Linked DNA regions of Homo sapiens: region 2 is linked to region 1. The links come from fine-mapping of genetic effects on gene expression. Tissue or cell type: sun-exposed skin. Region 1 holds a variant in brackets; the other region holds the start of a gene. All regions are shown on one strand. Distances are between the middles of the regions.

Region 1 (8,265 bases):
AGGGCAATTAATGGCATATTCCTAGGAGAACCAAGTGTGGGGGTTTTTCCTGTGGGAGGGAGGGCTTAGTGGGTGATATTTTGTGGGTTAGCAAACATCTTATATTTATTTGCAAAGCTGATGTAAGTGCCATTTTTTTTTAGCAAAGTATATTTCACTATATTTTTTTCATTGTAATGGCTGACAAAATCAAGATGGTAGACTGTATGGTTAGCCCCATGTGGTACATAATGAGACTATAGAAACTTATATGTGACCCCTAAGTCTCCTCTCTGGGTTATGGATAGGCCGCCTTAGTTTTGAGGTTAAAAGCATGACTTTTGGTCCCCTCCCTGGTTGCCTTATTTCTGAAGCCTCTCCAAGGCCTTTGTTCAGAAGGTGCTCTGATCTTACAGTTAGCACACAGTTACTTCTGGAAAGCTATTAGCTGCCTCCTGTTCCTCACTGGTGTTAAAAAATGAGTGAGGAAAATACCATTGTTCAGATAGGATTACAGACTAGCTGGCTTGTCTTAGGGAATCTTCAAAGCAGTCAAACCCAATAAACACCATATTAAGTTTGAAACACTTTTTTTTTTTTTCATTTCTGGCTTACATAATGGGCAGCAAATATCTAAGACATGGTGCTGCTGTAGGATTCCATGAGTTAATAGTTAGTGATGATATTGACCAGACTTATATCAACAAACGAAACAGTTGTCTAGCCAGGCTTCTTCCTTAATGGAAGACTCATCTTTGTTGAATGATTTCATTAAAGCCTTATTGTATACAGAAGATTAGAATGAAGCTACACAGAGGAGGTTCCATTGAATCTCACTCCAAATGGAGTTTGGGGAAAAGAAGGAAAAGGCATCTCAGACAGGGAAAATAGCATACACAAAGGCACAAAGAGGTAACAGGTGTTTGTGTGATTTAAGAAAAGTTTGGACTGATCGATAGGTAAGGTAGTGGATAGAAATGGATTTCTGTCCCTCTTGAGAGATGTATGTGAGCATCTTCTTATTTATTTATTTATTTATTTTTGAGACGGAGTCCCACTCTGTTGCCCAGGTTGGAGTGCAATGGCGCGATCTCAGCTCACTGTAATCTTCGCCTCCCGGGTTCAAGTGAGTCTCCTGCCTCAGCCTCTCGAGTAGCTGGGACTACAGGTGCCCGCCACCACATCCGGCTAATTTTTGTATTTTTAGTAGACACGGGGTTTCAAAACATCTTGGTCAGGCTGGTCTCAAACTCCTGATCTCAGGTGATCCACCCACCTCGGCCTCCCAAAGTGCCTGGATGACAGGTGTGAGCCCCCGCGCCCAGCCGCATCTTCATAATTTTTAAGTTCACACTCAAAGACAGAACTACCAAATTTAGAAGCTACATCATTAAATATCAAAAAAAAAAAAAACCTATCGTCTCCACTTACCTGGTATATGAATGTGAGTTGTCATATTTTGGAAACCTGGGACAAAGTATCAAATACTTTGCCCTAATCTTCTTACACAGAATTTTAATTTCAGAGGGTAGGAGTTTAATTCAATTTTTAAAAACAGTAAATATATCTTATCATCACCTTGTGCTTAAAATTATGGGTGAGATAGAAGAGTTTGCCCTATTTGGCTAATTAGAAGAAGGCTGGTAGCCGACTGTGAAAAGGAAATGTCTTCCCATCATGATGAGTTGAAGACTGACCCTGGTGGGCAAAAACAAGATTCCATTGCCAAACATTTTTACATCCAGACCCATTTAAAAAATCAGGATCTTGTAGGAACACAGATTTCCTTCTGAGCAGTTACAAAATAGGGAGATCAATGCCTTCTTTTGAGCGCTAAGGAGAATAAGCTCTTGACTTAATTCATAGAAAGTGAGTTCATTAAGAGAGAAATAACTTCTAGCTTTGGGGCCACCAAGTGTCTTTTTTTAAAATGACTTTCCCCCAAACCAGGAAGAAATTTCCTTACTCCACAGAGGAAAAAATACTTGCGAGATCTTTTCCTCAGCCAACTAAGGGAACACAGTCAGGCAAAGTGTACTTTTATAAACGTCTTGGGGCCGGGCGTGGTGGCTCACATCTGTAATCCCAGCACTGGGAGTTCGAGGCGGGCAGATCACTTGAGGGCAGGAATTCAAGACCAGCCTGGCCAAAGAGCCTGGTGAAACCCTGTCTCTACTAAAAATACAAAAATTAGCTGGGCATAGTGGTGGGCTCCTGTAACCCCAGCTACTCAGGAGGCTGAGGCAACAGAATCACTTGAACCTGGGAGGCGGAGGTTGCAGTGAGCTGAAATTGCACCACTGCACTACAGCCTGGGTGACAGAGGGAGACTCCTCAAAAATTACAATACAATGCAATAAAGGTCTTGGCAAACACACCTTTCTGAAATTTTTTAAAGGCAAAAGTTATAATATACTGTACTTCCTCAGTTCTGATTAGTTATCTATTATAGTACCATTTACTTAAATCATATCCTTTAAGGAAAAGTATAAAAACACTCCTTTAAATGTATATAGCCACTATGAAGTATACTGAGATCTACAACTTACTTTGAAATGAATTTTTTAAAAAAAGATGAGTGATGAATAGATAAATGGCTATGTGATAAAGGAAATATAGCAAAATACTCATTGTGAAATCTAGGTGCTATTTATATGGATGTCTATTGTATAATTCTTTCAGCTTTTCTATATATTTGAAGGTTTTCATATTTTAGGAATTAAAATATTAAACAACTTTCATCATAGAGTTAAGAAAATGGACCAAATTATAATTTATGAACTGATAACAGTGATCTTAGGCTTAGCTTAAAATTTTGATGCAGAATAATTTGGTAGAAAAAAATATTCATTATTTGCAATGTTTTCGTCTACATAAGAAAGGCCCTTCACTATGTATACAGTTTTTGTTGAACAGCCACTAGCCTTAAAAGACTACACAGTATTAACCTCACATATTCATTTAAATGAATAAAGGGACAGGTAATGGAGATCTAGCAGATTGGACTAAATTATTACTGATTCTAGGAAAATCTTTGAGAAAAAAATGTTATATATCCCTAAAACAAGTCTTTTTCCCTTCAGATTTGGTGCTTTTTTCCCCACAATTGAGGGTTCTATTTTGGCAGGTTTCTGCTAATCAAGGTCTTATTATACTTGTTTTAGCAAAATACATAATACATTTTGGGTAATAAAGTTGACTGTAACCCCAAATGAAACATAGTGCCCATTAGCTGACTATATATACATAAACACTATGTGGCAACCTAGGAAAATGGTTTTGATTTTATGTGGAGCAAGAACAGCTGAAATGATTCTATGGTCTCCACCTTGGTGATTGAAACCATATACAAAAGCACACATAATGGAGAAAGCAATGGAGGAAATGTCTAAATGGGATTGGGTTGAGGTAGTAAGAGAATAGTGTGGGTGATTTTTGTTTTCTTTCCTGGCCTCCTCACGATTTTCTGTTAGATGGTTATGGTGACATCAGTAATTGGCACACTAATGGATAAGTATGCATTTAGGGGGTCAAGTCAGTGTCTGCACACAGGTGACCCCTGGGTCTTTCTTTCAGGGTAGTCAGCAGAGTGCACACAGCAGCTGTCATCCCTCCTTCGCTCCTGTCATCACTGGCCTGCAAAACCTGGTTGGCACAAAAAGAGTTTCAGATCCTTCCCAGAAAAATTCAGGTATTACACGGACACACCCAGAGCAAAACTATCCTGTTACCCAAATTAAAAAAAAAAAATGTGTTTTTTAAAAACCAGTCTTCTTTAATATAAATGTTTTTTAATTTTTTGAGCTTGGCCACATAAGCTGAGCTTTCTGAAAGGCATGTTCTGAAGGTAGGAAAGCCATAGAGATTCCTTCAGTGGTGGCCAGGCATGGTGGCTCACACCTGTAATCCCAGCACTTTGGGACGGCTGTGGCGGGCGGATCACCTGAGGTCAGGAGATCGAGACCATCCTGGCTAACCCCGTGAAACCCCGTCTCTATTAAAATACAAAAAAAAATTAGCCGGGCGTGGTGGCATACGCCTGTAGTCCCAGCTACTCAGGAGGCTGAGGCAGGAGAATTGCTTGAAACTGGCGGGGGTGGTGGAGGTTGCAGTGAGCCAAGATCGTGCCACTGCACTCCAGCCTGGGTGACAGAGCAAGACTCCGTCTCCAGAAAAAAAAAAAGAAATTCCTTCAGTGGCACAACACAAAGCACCTGAAAAACAGAAAAGCAGAAAGCTGGAGTGCATGGTAAAATAAAATTACTTACAAAGAGAAAATTAATAAATTACAGGTCACTGGAGAAAGGTCAGAAGTGTGTATACCTTCTATGGGAAAATTGGGCCAGTTAAAAGAAAAAAAAAAGTGTGTATATCCTTGGGGGCAGGGTGGGACAAGGGGTCCTTTTAAGTCTTTTGTTGAATGGAGGGTTATCTTTGATTAAGGTAGAAAAAAATGTACAATGAAACACAAATGACTCAGCCGGGCCCGGTGGCTCATGCCTGTAATCTTAGCACTTTGGGAGGCCAAGGCAGGCGGATCACCTGAGGTCAGGAGTTTGAGAGCAGCCTGGCCAACATGGAGAAACCTCGCCTGTACTAAAAATACAAAAATTAGCCGGGCATGGTGGCACATGCCTATAATCCCAGCTACTTGGGAGGCTGAGGCAGGAGAATCGCTTGAACCCAAGAGGCAGAGATGGCAGTGAGCTAAGATCGGACCACTGCACTCCAGCCTGGGCGACAGAGTGAGACTCCATCTAAAAAAAAAAAAAAAAAAAAAACCACACACACACACAAAAATGAGTCATCCTCCAAGCATTTACTCACCATGTTCCAGGCAGCTGCTGCTATATAGCCCATCCACTTTTGTCAGACCAAATGGTTATGGCCACATTGATCTCAAACAGAGAGCACTTCTTTAAAATAGAGGACACAGCAGGCCGGGCACGGTGGCTCACGCCTGTAATCCCAACACTTTGGGAGGCCGAGGCAGGTGGATCACTTGAGGTCGAGAGTTTGAGACCAGCCTGGCCAACATGGTGAAACCCCGTCTCTACTAAAAATACAAAAATTAGCCGGGCGTGGTGGCAGGC[A/G]CCTGTAATCCCAGCTATTTGGAGGCAGAGGCAGAAGAATTGCTTGAATCTGGGAGGCAGAGGTTGCAGTGAGCTGAGATGGTGCCACTGCACTCCAGCCTGGGTGACAAAGCGAGACTCTGTGTCAAAAAAAAAAAAAAGAGGACATGGCCCCTGGTGACTTGGCTACCAGCTTGGATGCTGAGGAAGGGTACAATACCTGCTTGCTTTAGTGTCTTCTCTTGAAAGACCTAGAAAATGAAACCATTTTTCATGGGGCAATATTATATGCTAAATATATTATTTTTTAATATTAAAAAGTTAATTGTGTTGCTTCTTTATAGGCACAGATATGGAACCAAGGACTGTTGAGATAAACAGGGTAAGTCAGTCATTTTGCTGTATGTATTTTTCTGGTTTGTGTTGGATTTGCACTAAATGTACATTTTCCCCAATACAGTTTATTGGATTGTGAGTGTGCTCTTTCAAGTTACTGAGATAAAAATATGGTCTAAATAACATCAATAAATAGACTTAGAAAAGTACAGTAGAGCACAGAGATGACCTCTATGAATTTTTTGGCAAATCTCATCCACTATATTCTGTGCTATGTGTAAGTTTTATTTTTATTTATTTATTTTTTCAATCTTAGTCTTTTAACCTGTACATGTAAAGTTTTATAAAACAAAAATGGTATCATGTGGCACATACTAAATAAGTATTTTTTGAGAGCATATAGTATGATTTTTATCGATTTCATAGTACTCCATCTTATGAATGTGCTATAAGTTTCTTTTTTTTTTTTTTTTTTTTTTTTTTGAGACAGAGTCTTGCTCTGTCACCCAGGCTAGAGTGCACTGGTGCGATCTCGGCTCACTGCAAGCTCCACCTCCTGGGTTCATGCCATTCTCCTGCCTCAGCATCCCGAGTACCTGGGACTACAGGCGCCTGCCACCACGCCCAGCTAATTTTTTGTATTTTTAGTAGAGACGGGTTTTCACCGTGTTAGCCAGGATGGTCTCGATCTCCTGACCTCGTGATCCACCTGCCTTGGCCTCCCAAAGTGCTGGGATTACAGGCGTGAGGCACCGTGCCCGGCCAAATGTGCTATAAGTTTCTTAACCAGTTTCCTATTATTGAACAATTAGCATATTTCTCAATTTTTGCTATCTTTTATAGTAAAACATCTTTATATTTTTGCCCAAATCATGAGTAACTTCCTCAGGATTAATTCCTAGAAATGAAACTTGGGGGTCAAAAGCCAAGCTTGTTATTAGAGGCTTTTATACATGTTGCTAAATTTCCCTTTTGAGAAGATTATATAAGATGTATTTCATTCATAAATTTGTCGAACCCTGATTTTCAGACTCCTGTGTGATGATATCTAATGAAAGTAGACTCTTTTTTTCTTTTTCTTTTTCTTTTTGAGATGGAGTCACCGTGTTGCCCAGGCTGGAATGCAGTGGTGCAATCTCAACTCACTGCAACCTCCACCTCCTGGGTTCAAGTAATTCTCGTGCCTCAGCCTCCCAAGTAGCTGAGACTACAGGCACACACCACCACGCCCGGCTAATTTTTGTATTTTTTGTAGAGACACAGTTTCTCCATGTTGGCCTGGCTGGTCTCGAACTCCTGCCCTCAATCGATCCGACCACCTCAGCCTTCTGAAGTGCTAGGATTACAGGCATGAGCCACCAGGCCCGGCCAAAAGTAGACTTTTATTTTGCTCACTTTGACCTAAATGAGGGGTTCAAGAAGAAATAATGACCCTGTTGTAATCATGGTAATCCACTGCAGTAAAGTGATATCCAGCATAACTTACTTCTCTAGATTTAATGATACCTCTGTTTGAAGGCATTCTACCATTTATTAGCTGCATTAGTTTGCTAGATCTGCAGTTATAAAACACCACAGACTGGGTGGCTTAAACAGTGGGAATTTATTTTCTCACAGTTCTGAAGGCTAGATCCAAGATGAAGGTGTCTGCAGGTTTGACTTTTCCTGAGGCCCCCCTCCTTGGCTTGCAGATGTCCACTTTCTTGCTGTAGCCACACGTGGCCTTTTTTGTGTGTCACTCATCATCCCTGGTGTCTCTCCTATGTCCTAATCTTTTCTTATAAGGACACCAGTCACATTGGACTAGGGCACACCCTGGCCTCATTTTAAAGGCCCTATCTCCAAATACAGTCACATTCTGAGGCCCTGGTACTTGGGGCTTCAACATGTGAATCTTAGGGGGACCCAATTCAGCCTGTACATTAGCTGTACAGCTGGGTGCGGTGGCTCATACCTGTAATCCCAGCATTGTGGGAGGCCGAGGTGGGAGGATCACTGAGCCCAGGAGTTTGAGACCAGCCTGGGCAACATGGGGAAACTCCGTCTCTACAAATAATTTCTTTTAAAATTAGACAGGCGTGGTGGTGCATGCCTGTGGTTCCAGCTCCCAGCTATTTGGGAGGCTGAAGTGGGAAGATCGCTTGAGCTCAGGAGGTTGAGGCTGCAGTGAGCCGTGATCATGCCACTGCACTCCAGCCTGGGTGACAGAGTAAAACCCTGTCTCAAAAAAAAAAAAAAAAACAAAAAAAAACAAAAAAAAAACGCCATTAGCTCTATAATAGTTAGCAACTCAACCTCAATTTTCTCATCTGTAGAATGGGGGTGATAACACTAACTCACCTCAAAGGTAAATATTATTGTGTGGATTACATGAGGTCATGAATGTAATGTCTTTAGCATAGCACCTAGTGCATCAGGAATGCCCAGGAAGTGGCTTCTGTTGTTATTAGCTACAGCTTTGACTAAATCTGCCTTATTTGTTCCCGGTATTTTTCCACCAGAGTAGCAACTCAAATGTTCCTATGATGGGGAAGTTAAATGTACCAACAGTATATATAATTATAGATAAATTAAGGAAACATCATGATGGATTTAAACAAAGCCAAAACATTATTGCATAAATTTCTCCTCTAAGATTTCAAAAATAATATTCTTTTATATTTCCTTAGTCATTTCAGCCACTTGTTTTTACAGGCTTTTGTAATAAAGCCTGCTCCTACCTACCCTATTCTACCACACGTGATCCAAGCATAAATTTCTTTCTTTTTTTTTCCTGAGACAGAGTCTCACTCTGTTACCCAGGCTGGAGTGCAGTGGTGCAATCTCGGCTCACTGAAACCTCCACCTCCCAGGTTCAAGTCATTCTCCTCCCTCAGCC
Region 2 (8,000 bases), 380 kb before region 1:
ATAGAGAGGCCTTGTCTCTAAATATAAAAAATTTAAAAAATTAGCTGGGCATGGTGGTGCATGTTTGTAGTCCCAGCTTCTCAGGAGGCTAACATGGGGGAATGGCTTGGGCCCAGGAGTTCAAGGCTGCAGTGAGTTATGATCTCACCACTGCTCTCCAGCCTGGACAACAGAGTGGGACCCTGTCTCAATTATTTATTTATTTTTCTTTTTTTTTTTTGAGATGGAGTCTTGCTCTGTTGCCCAGGCAGGAGTGCAGTGGCATGATCTCGGCTCACTGCAACCTCCGCCTCTTGGGTTCAAGCAATTCTCCTGCCTCAGCCTCCTGAGTAGCTGGGACTACAGGTGTGTGCCACCACGCCTGGGTTATTATTGTATTTTTAGTGGGTTTTCCCCACGTTGATCAGGCTGGTCTTGAACTCCTGACCTCCGGTGATATACCCGCCTCGGCCTCCCAAAGTGCTGGGATTACATTCATGAGTCACTACACCTGGCCTGAAAAAATTAATTAGTTAATTAACAACACAAAGGAAGAAGGGTGGTTGGTGAGGTAAAATTAATTAACAGCACAGAAATGTAGAGAAAATCAGGTTAAAACTGATAGAGATGATGTTTCCTGGGGTGGCCAGGGAGGCAGCTTTTCAGAAGGGGTTAGACTTGAGTCTAGCCCTAGAAGGAGGGTAGGGCTTACAGAACATTCCAGGCAGGGGAAAGTGGGTAGGTAACGAACAGAAAAGCCATTGGTGTTCCATGGATATGGAATAGATAAATTTGCTCAGAGTAAGATCCTCCAGAGGTGAAGTGGAGATTAGGTTGAAGAGTCAGCAAGAAGGGGCCGGGCACAGTGGCTCACGCCTGTAATCCCAGCACTTTGGGGAGGCCAAGGCAGGCAGATTACCTGAGGTCAGGAGTCTGAGACCAGCCTGGCCAACATGGTGAAACCCCGTCTCTACTAAAAATACAAAAATTAGCCAGGTGTGGTGGCAGGCGCCTGTAATCCCAGCTACTCAGGAGGCTGAGGCAGGAGAATCGCTTGACCCCGGGAGGTGGAGGTTGCAGTGAGCTGAGATCACGCCATAGCACTCCAGCCTGGAATGCGAGACTTTGTCTCAAAAAAAAAAAAAAAGAAAAGAAAAGAGTCAGCAAGCAGGGGAGAGTTTGAAGGGCCTTGAATAGCAAGAAAAGGAGTTTGGACTTGGTTTCATGGTCAACTTAAAGTTACATAGCTTTTTGAAAATAGGGGAATATGTTCACAACATCATTTAATATTAAAGTAAGAAGAGGCAGGCTGGGTGTGGTGGCTCATGCCTGTTATCCCAGCACTTTGGGTGGCCGAGGTGGGTGGATCACCTGAGGTTAGGAGTTTGAGACTAGCCTGGCCAACATGGTGAAACCCATTTCTACTAAAAATACAAAAATTAGCCAGGTGTGGTGGCGGGCGCCTGTAATCTCAGCTACTCAGGAGGCTGAGGCAGGAGAATTGCTGGAACCTGGGAGGCGGAGGTTCCAGTTGCACTCCAGGGTAGGGCCAACAACAGCGAGACTCTGTCTAAATAAATAAATAAGCCAGTCATGATGGTGCATGCCTATAGTCCCAGCTACTCGGGAGGCTGCAGTGGGAGGATCGCTTGAGCCTAGGAATTTGAGGCTGCCATGATTGCACCACTGTGCACCAGCCTGGGTGACAGAGTGAGACCTTGTCTCAAAAAAAATTAATTAATTAAATAAATACAAAATAAAATAAGAGGAGGCCAGGCATGGTGGCTCATGCCTGTAATCCCAGCACTTTGGGAGGCTGAGGCAGGAGGATGGCTTGAGGCCAGGAGTTTGAGAGTAGCTTGGGCAACATAGTGAGACCATCTCTCTACAATAAATAAATAAAGAAGAGGTGCAATAGCCAGGTGTAGTGGTGGTGCCTATAATCTCAGCTTTTCAAGAAGGATATTAAGGTGGAAGGATTGCTTGAGTCCAGGAGTTTGAGGCCAGCCTAGGTAACATAGTGAGATTCAATTTCAATTTAAAAAATAAATAAATAAAAATAAATTTAAAAAGAAGAGACCAATGTTTGCAAGGTGATTCTTTGAGATAATTGGTCTCCACCTTTCTTTTTTTTCCTATTTAATTTTTATTATAGGTTCAGAGCTACATGCACAGGTTTGTAGGCCAGGTGCAGTGGCTCACGCCTGTAATCCCAGCACTTTTGGAGGCTGAGGCGGGTGGATCACGAGGTCAGGAGTTTGAGACCAGCCTGGCCAACGTGGTGAAACCCCATGTCTACTAAAAATACAAAAAATTAGCCGGGTGTGGTGGCTGGCACCTGTAATCCCAGCTACTCAGGAGGCTGAGGCAGGAGAATGGCTTGAACAGGGAGGCAGAGGTTGCAGTGAGCTGACTGTGCCACTGCACTCCAGCCTGGGCAACAGAGCGAGACTCTGTCTCAAAACAACAACAACAACAAAAAAACCAGGTTTGTTACATAGACAAATTGTAGGCCATGGGGTTTGATATACAGATTATTTCATCACCCAGGCAATAAGTATAGTACCTGATAGGTAGTTTTTCAATCCTCTCCCTTTTCCCACTCAATCTCCAACTTTATTTTGCCCCCGACTTGGAAAGCCTTTCCTTCTCCATTTTACCTAAATTAATCTCAGACTCTGGTTAAGACCTGTTTAAGTTCTAACCCATGCTTTCAAAAAACATAATAGATCTCTTCATTTTCTGAGGTCTGGCTTCCATCTGGCAATTTGCCTGTTATTTCCCTCAGTAGTTTGTTAGTTCCTAAAAAGCAGAAACCATGCTGATATTGTGTGTCTTCTTACCATGACTAACAAGTGTTACATTTCTTTTAAAACAAGGAAGCAAACTACAAAGCACCAAGTGCATGATCTTAATTTTATTTATTTATTTATTTATTTGAGATGGAGTCTTGCTCTGTCGCCCAGGCTGGTCTTGAACCCCTGGGCTCAAGTGATCCTCCGACTTCAGCCCCACAGAGTAGCTGGGACTACAAGCTCACGGCACCACTCCGGGCTAATTGTTGTTGTTGTTGTTGTTGTTGTTTTTGAGGCGGGGTCTCTCTCTGTCACCCAGGCTGGAGTGCAGTGGCAGGATCTTGGCTCACTGCAACCTCTGCCTCCTGGGTTCAAGTGATTCTCCTGCCTCAGCCTCCTGCGTAGAGGGGACTACGCATCCACCACACCCGGCTAATTTTTGTATTTGTAGTAGAGACGGGGTTTCATCATATTGGTCAGGCTGGTCTCGAACTCCTGACCTCGGGTGATCCACCCGCCTCGGCCTTCCAAAGTACTGGGATTACAAGCGTGAGCCACCGCGCCCCGCCTGAAAGTCTTTATGTTGTAGTTGTTTTGTATCTATTCCTCATCTTCCTGGGGACAGGGATACCATTTTACACATCTTCCCACAATCAATCACAGTGTTTAACAATTACTGTATGTACTCTATGAATAAGATACCTGAAGATTGATTCTCTTTATCGTTAATGTGTGGACTGTATCAGGCAAAGTAAAACCCCTATCATCAAAAGCCTAAAGTTATTAAAGGGAGTGGAAGAAGGCTATCGGGACATATTTTTCTCGAAGGTGTGACATCACAAATAAAAGAAAATTAACGTATAGTGAAATCATCACTGTAGTTAGAGTCAAAATGCCTTGCCTGTGTTCCAAACTTTGGGCCAGTCAACCTACAGGGTGCACGGTTTCCTCATTAGTTTCTTCAGAGAGTAAATGAGACATTGCATAAGCTAGCACCTAGCATACAGCAGGCAAATACTGCTGGATTTCTTTCTTCCACTAAATGAGAAGAAAATAATGACTCCCACATTTACACGTTTTAGAATATTTTATTTTGCGTCAGCGAATAGAGAAAACAAAGGAGGGATGAGAGAACAGGAAAGGAAAGGGGCAAAAAGACAAAGTGTTAAGCGGATTGACCCAACGCTTTCATCGATATCCTCCTCAATTTCCTTGATCTTGGGTCTCGCTCTACACGCAGGCCTCCAACCACACCGGTCTGTCCGGATCTCCCTCCCCGTCAGTGGCGGCTGTCCCCACCACGCGCGGTCTGATCCGCCACCCCGCCCCCACAGCCCACTTTTCCCAGGCCCTTGGCCATCCCGCGCCCGGTAGGAATTCACCTGCACGTAAACAGCCAGGGCAACCGTCCTCCCTCCTTGGAGCCCGCCTCCCGCGGCCCCGGGCTCCCTCCCCCGCCCCCTGCGCCACCCCGGTGCCCCGCCCCGGGCGGGGAGAGTCGGGGCGAGGGGAGGGCCTGCCAGGTGAGGCGCGGTCACCCTGGGCCTCTCACTTCCGCCCAGGTGAGGCAGGGCCGACACCGAGCCCGCCCGACCCGGGCTCCCACCTGCTCCTCCAGCGCACCAGGTAAAGCGTGAGGTCCCGGCTGTGCAGTGCGCGCTCGCCCCTGGGTGTCCCCGCGCCTGGAGGCCGGCCGGGGGCAGCTCCCTCGGGGCTTCCCGGGCCTGCCTGCCCTGCCCCCGCGCTCTCCCCGCCCGCCCGCCTGGAGTGGGTGGGAGCCGGAGGTGGAGGGCGCCGCCGGGCGCTCAGAGGGGCCGCGGCGAGGATGGGGCGCCCGCGGCGTGCGTCCGCGCTGACCCGGGAGGCGGGGCGGGGGCGCCGTCCTCCTGCGTCGGGCCCGGGTGACCCCACGGTGGTCCCCGCCCCGCCGCGCAGGGCTCGCCGAGGCCGCGGGCAGGGAGGGGCGCCGCCCCGCCTCCCCAGGCCTTTCGGGCCTCGAATCTCGGCCCACTGGTATTCGGGGGTGGCACGGATCCTATTTTGCGCCCAGATCGGTGCCCCTGTTTCGCTCCCAGAGCTGGGCGGAGTCTTTCCCTCCATCGGTGGCCGTGGAAGGAGGGAACGGGGTGAGGGGACAAAGAGGAGGGGGTGCTCAGAGCCGGGCTGAGGGGGCGACTTGGGCCCGGCCGCGTCGCGGCGCCTGGTCATCCCGTAGCGGAGGTTCCCAAGCCAGCGGTCAGGCCCTGGGCTCTGCCAGCCTTGCTGCGTAGATGGGGAGGTTCTGTCGGAAAGTGCTTCCAGCCTTAGGGGAAATTCCTGGACTCCTGCTTTTAAATCAAGCTCAGGAAAGCATTTTCAGATCACTCCCACTCTCCAAAGCGCCCCAGCCGTCCCGCACGCAGGCCGAATTAAGTGAACACCCCTTCACTTGGCACTTTGTCATATTTCCAAGTGGCTCTTGTCACTTTGAATTCCAGTTGGTTGTTTACTGGCTTGCCTCTGCCATTTAGAGGGTGCCCCTTTCAGGGCCTTATTTTTCGACTGCATTTAGGGTCTGGCTATTGGTAGGTGCGCGACAAGTGTTTCTTAAAGGAAGGCAGAAGCCTTTGGAAACCCAGAAGGACAATGTCGGTTCCACTGAGGATGATACTACCACATTCTGGGCTAAATTCCTATTGGCTGCAAATTAATTTGCACACATCTATTTGAAAGGAGTGGAGGCAGGGGCAGCGGTTAAAAACTTAAATCTGTTTGCAGCATTAGAAAATGTTAGGTGAGATTGAGCCTTTTAGCTAAAGTGAGCTTTGATGTTTTTAGGGCCCCTAATGGCCTTTAAGATGTTAACAATAACAACAACAACAAAACACTCCAAATGTGTTGAATTTATTTGGGAATGAGAAATGAGCGTTATAGCCCGAGGTGCACAGGCCTGGCAAGCCATATATGCATGGAAGAGGGGAGGGTAAAAGGAAACTTTTATTGGCAAAGTAAGTGCAGATAAGCTGCGTGAAAACAGAGTTTATTGGTTTTGCAGACTGAAAGCCAGAGTTGGCCATTGTTGAAGATGCCATTACTGGGCAGGTGTTATGGAGAGCATCTTATCAGGCCTGGCAACCTGCCTCATGCCTGTTATCTCAGCTACTTAGGAGGCTTAGGCAGGAGGATCGCTTGAGGCCAAGAGTTGGAGACCAGCCTGAGCAACATGGCTGTCTTTACAGAAAAAGCTTTTTAAATAGTCAGGTGTGTCGGGAGGTTGAGGCAGGGGAATTGCTTGAGCCCAGGAGATGGAGGCTGTGGTGAGTGGTGTTTGCACCACTACACTCCAGCCTGGGTGACAGAGCAAGAACCCTGTCTCAAAAAAAAAAAAAAAAAAAAAAGGAAAAAAGATTATCTTATCTTATCTTATCTGAATTACTGCATTCCTAAAGAAAGAATTTCTTGGGTGGTTATTTTAGTTCCTTCTTGAGACCGATCTTTATCTCAGACTTGCAAGCATGAGCTTTCTCCCTCAGGCTCTCTAGTTTGTTTGGGTTTGACAAAAAGTGATTTTGACCTGGTATCTGCAACTTTCACAAAGATAATAACAAAGTTAATAAATATGGAAATACTTATGGATAGAACTTATAAAATGAGTTCTGAAGAGATTTGCCCTTACTAGTCCAGATCCTATTAGGAGTAAGAGAAAAAACACAAACTTTTTCCTCTGCTCTCACACCACTACAGTCAACACTGAGGACTTCTGTGACCAAATAAATGTGTGGGCCCATCAGTTCTGCATCAAGCAATAGCTGAGCATCTAACAGTTCGATTCTGAAACTATTTACCTGGGGATAGTGTCAGATCCCATAAGACTGCCCTCACTTCTGATGCCAATCACAAGTCCTAGATTGTTTTACCCCGGCTTCTGACTAACCACCTATAAATTGGGAATCCCATAACTCCCTCCTCTGGGTTGGTTAACTTGCTAGAGCAGCTCACGGAACTCAAGAAAACACTTATTTAGGTTTATTACTAGTTTATTATTAAGAATATTACAGAGGATACAAGAGGAAGAGATGCACAGGGTGAGGTATGAGAAGGGGCATGCCACCCTCCAGGAACCTCCATGTGTTCAGATATTGAGAAGCTCTCCCTACCCCATCTTCTTGGGCTTTTTATGGAGACTTCATTGAGTAGACATAATTGAAGCATGGGGTAGGGAAACCCAGCAATGCCTATCTGTTCAGATTTTTCTTGGCCTCTCTCTGTAGCATTCCTTCCTCCAGGGTATGGGCAGGACCCCTTCTTATGGGGGTCTTATGACCTACAATCAGACAAGGGAGATCAGATAATTTTTTTAAATATTTATTTATTTATTTATTTTGAGACAGAGTCTTGCTCCGCTGCCCAGGCTGGAGTGCAGTGGGTGATCTCAGCTCACTGCAACCTCCACTTCCCGGGTTCAAGTGATTGTCCTGCCTCAGACTCCTGAGTAGCTGGGATTACAGACATGTGCCACCATACCTGGCTAATTTTTGTATTTTTAGTAGAGACAGGGTTTTACCATATTGGCCAGGCTGGTCTCGAACTCCTGACCTCAAGTGATCCACCTGTCTTGGCCTCCCAAAGTGCTGGGATTACAGGCGTGAGTCACTGCACCTAGCCAAAATTATTTTACTTTATTTTATTTTAATTAATTAATTTATTTATTTGGAGACGGAGTCTTGCTCTGTTGCCCAGGCTGGAGTGCAATGGCGCTGTCTTGGCTCACTACAACCTCTGCCTCCCAGGGTCAAGCGCTTCTCTTGCCTCAGCTTCCCAAGTAGCTGGGATTACAGGCGCCTGCCACCACACCTGTCTAATTTTTATATTTTTAGTAGAGATGGGGTTTCACCATGCTGGCCAGGCTGGTCTCGAACTCCTGACCTCAGGCGATCCACCCGCCTTGGACTCCCAAAGTGCTGGGATTACAGGCGTGAACCACCGGGCCTGGCAATTATTTTTTTTTTTAAAAATTTTTATTCATTTATTTTATTTATTTATTTTTGAGACAGAGCCTTACTCTGTTGCCCAGGCTGAAGTGCAGTGCCGCGATCTCCACCCACTGCAAACTTCACCTCCCTGGGTTCAAGCGATTGTCCTGGCTCAGCGTCACAACCTCAGGTGTGCGCCACCACCACTGGGTAATATATATATATATATTTTGTATTTTTAGTAGAGACAGGGTTTTGCCATGTTGGCCAGGCT

Direction of the effects. Positions count from the first base shown, and alleles are read on the strand shown. Sizes are in standard deviations (SD) of each study's normalised expression.
For the expression in sun-exposed skin of the gene that starts at base 4,325 in region 2, allele A in region 1 goes with a lower level than allele G (small effect, 0.38 SD a copy in GTEx).

What was found. PIP is the estimated chance that this variant, and not a neighbour inherited with it, causes the effect.
Region 2: PATJ starts here. The variant in region 1 is fine-mapped to the expression of PATJ in sun-exposed skin (GTEx, PIP above 0.99).

What each region holds. Positions count from the first base shown.
Region 1 is chr1:62,117,626-62,125,890 of GRCh38, forward strand. It overlaps PATJ (PATJ crumbs cell polarity complex component), which reads left to right. Exons shown (of 44, transcript NM_001350145.3): 38 at 3,556-3,670; 39 at 5,396-5,433. Among named protein-coding and RNA genes, the nearest start is that of MIR3116-2, 43 kb to the left of the region's middle. The variant A/G (reference allele first, on the strand shown) is at 5,073.
Region 2 is chr1:61,738,156-61,746,155 of GRCh38, forward strand. PATJ (PATJ crumbs cell polarity complex component) reads left to right here and starts at 4,325. Exons shown (of 44, transcript NM_001350145.3): 1 at 4,325-4,400. It overlaps PATJ-DT (PATJ divergent transcript), which reads right to left and starts at 4,629. Exons shown (of 1, transcript NR_185910.1): 1 at 3,843-4,629. RefSeq lists a silencer at 4,077-4,786.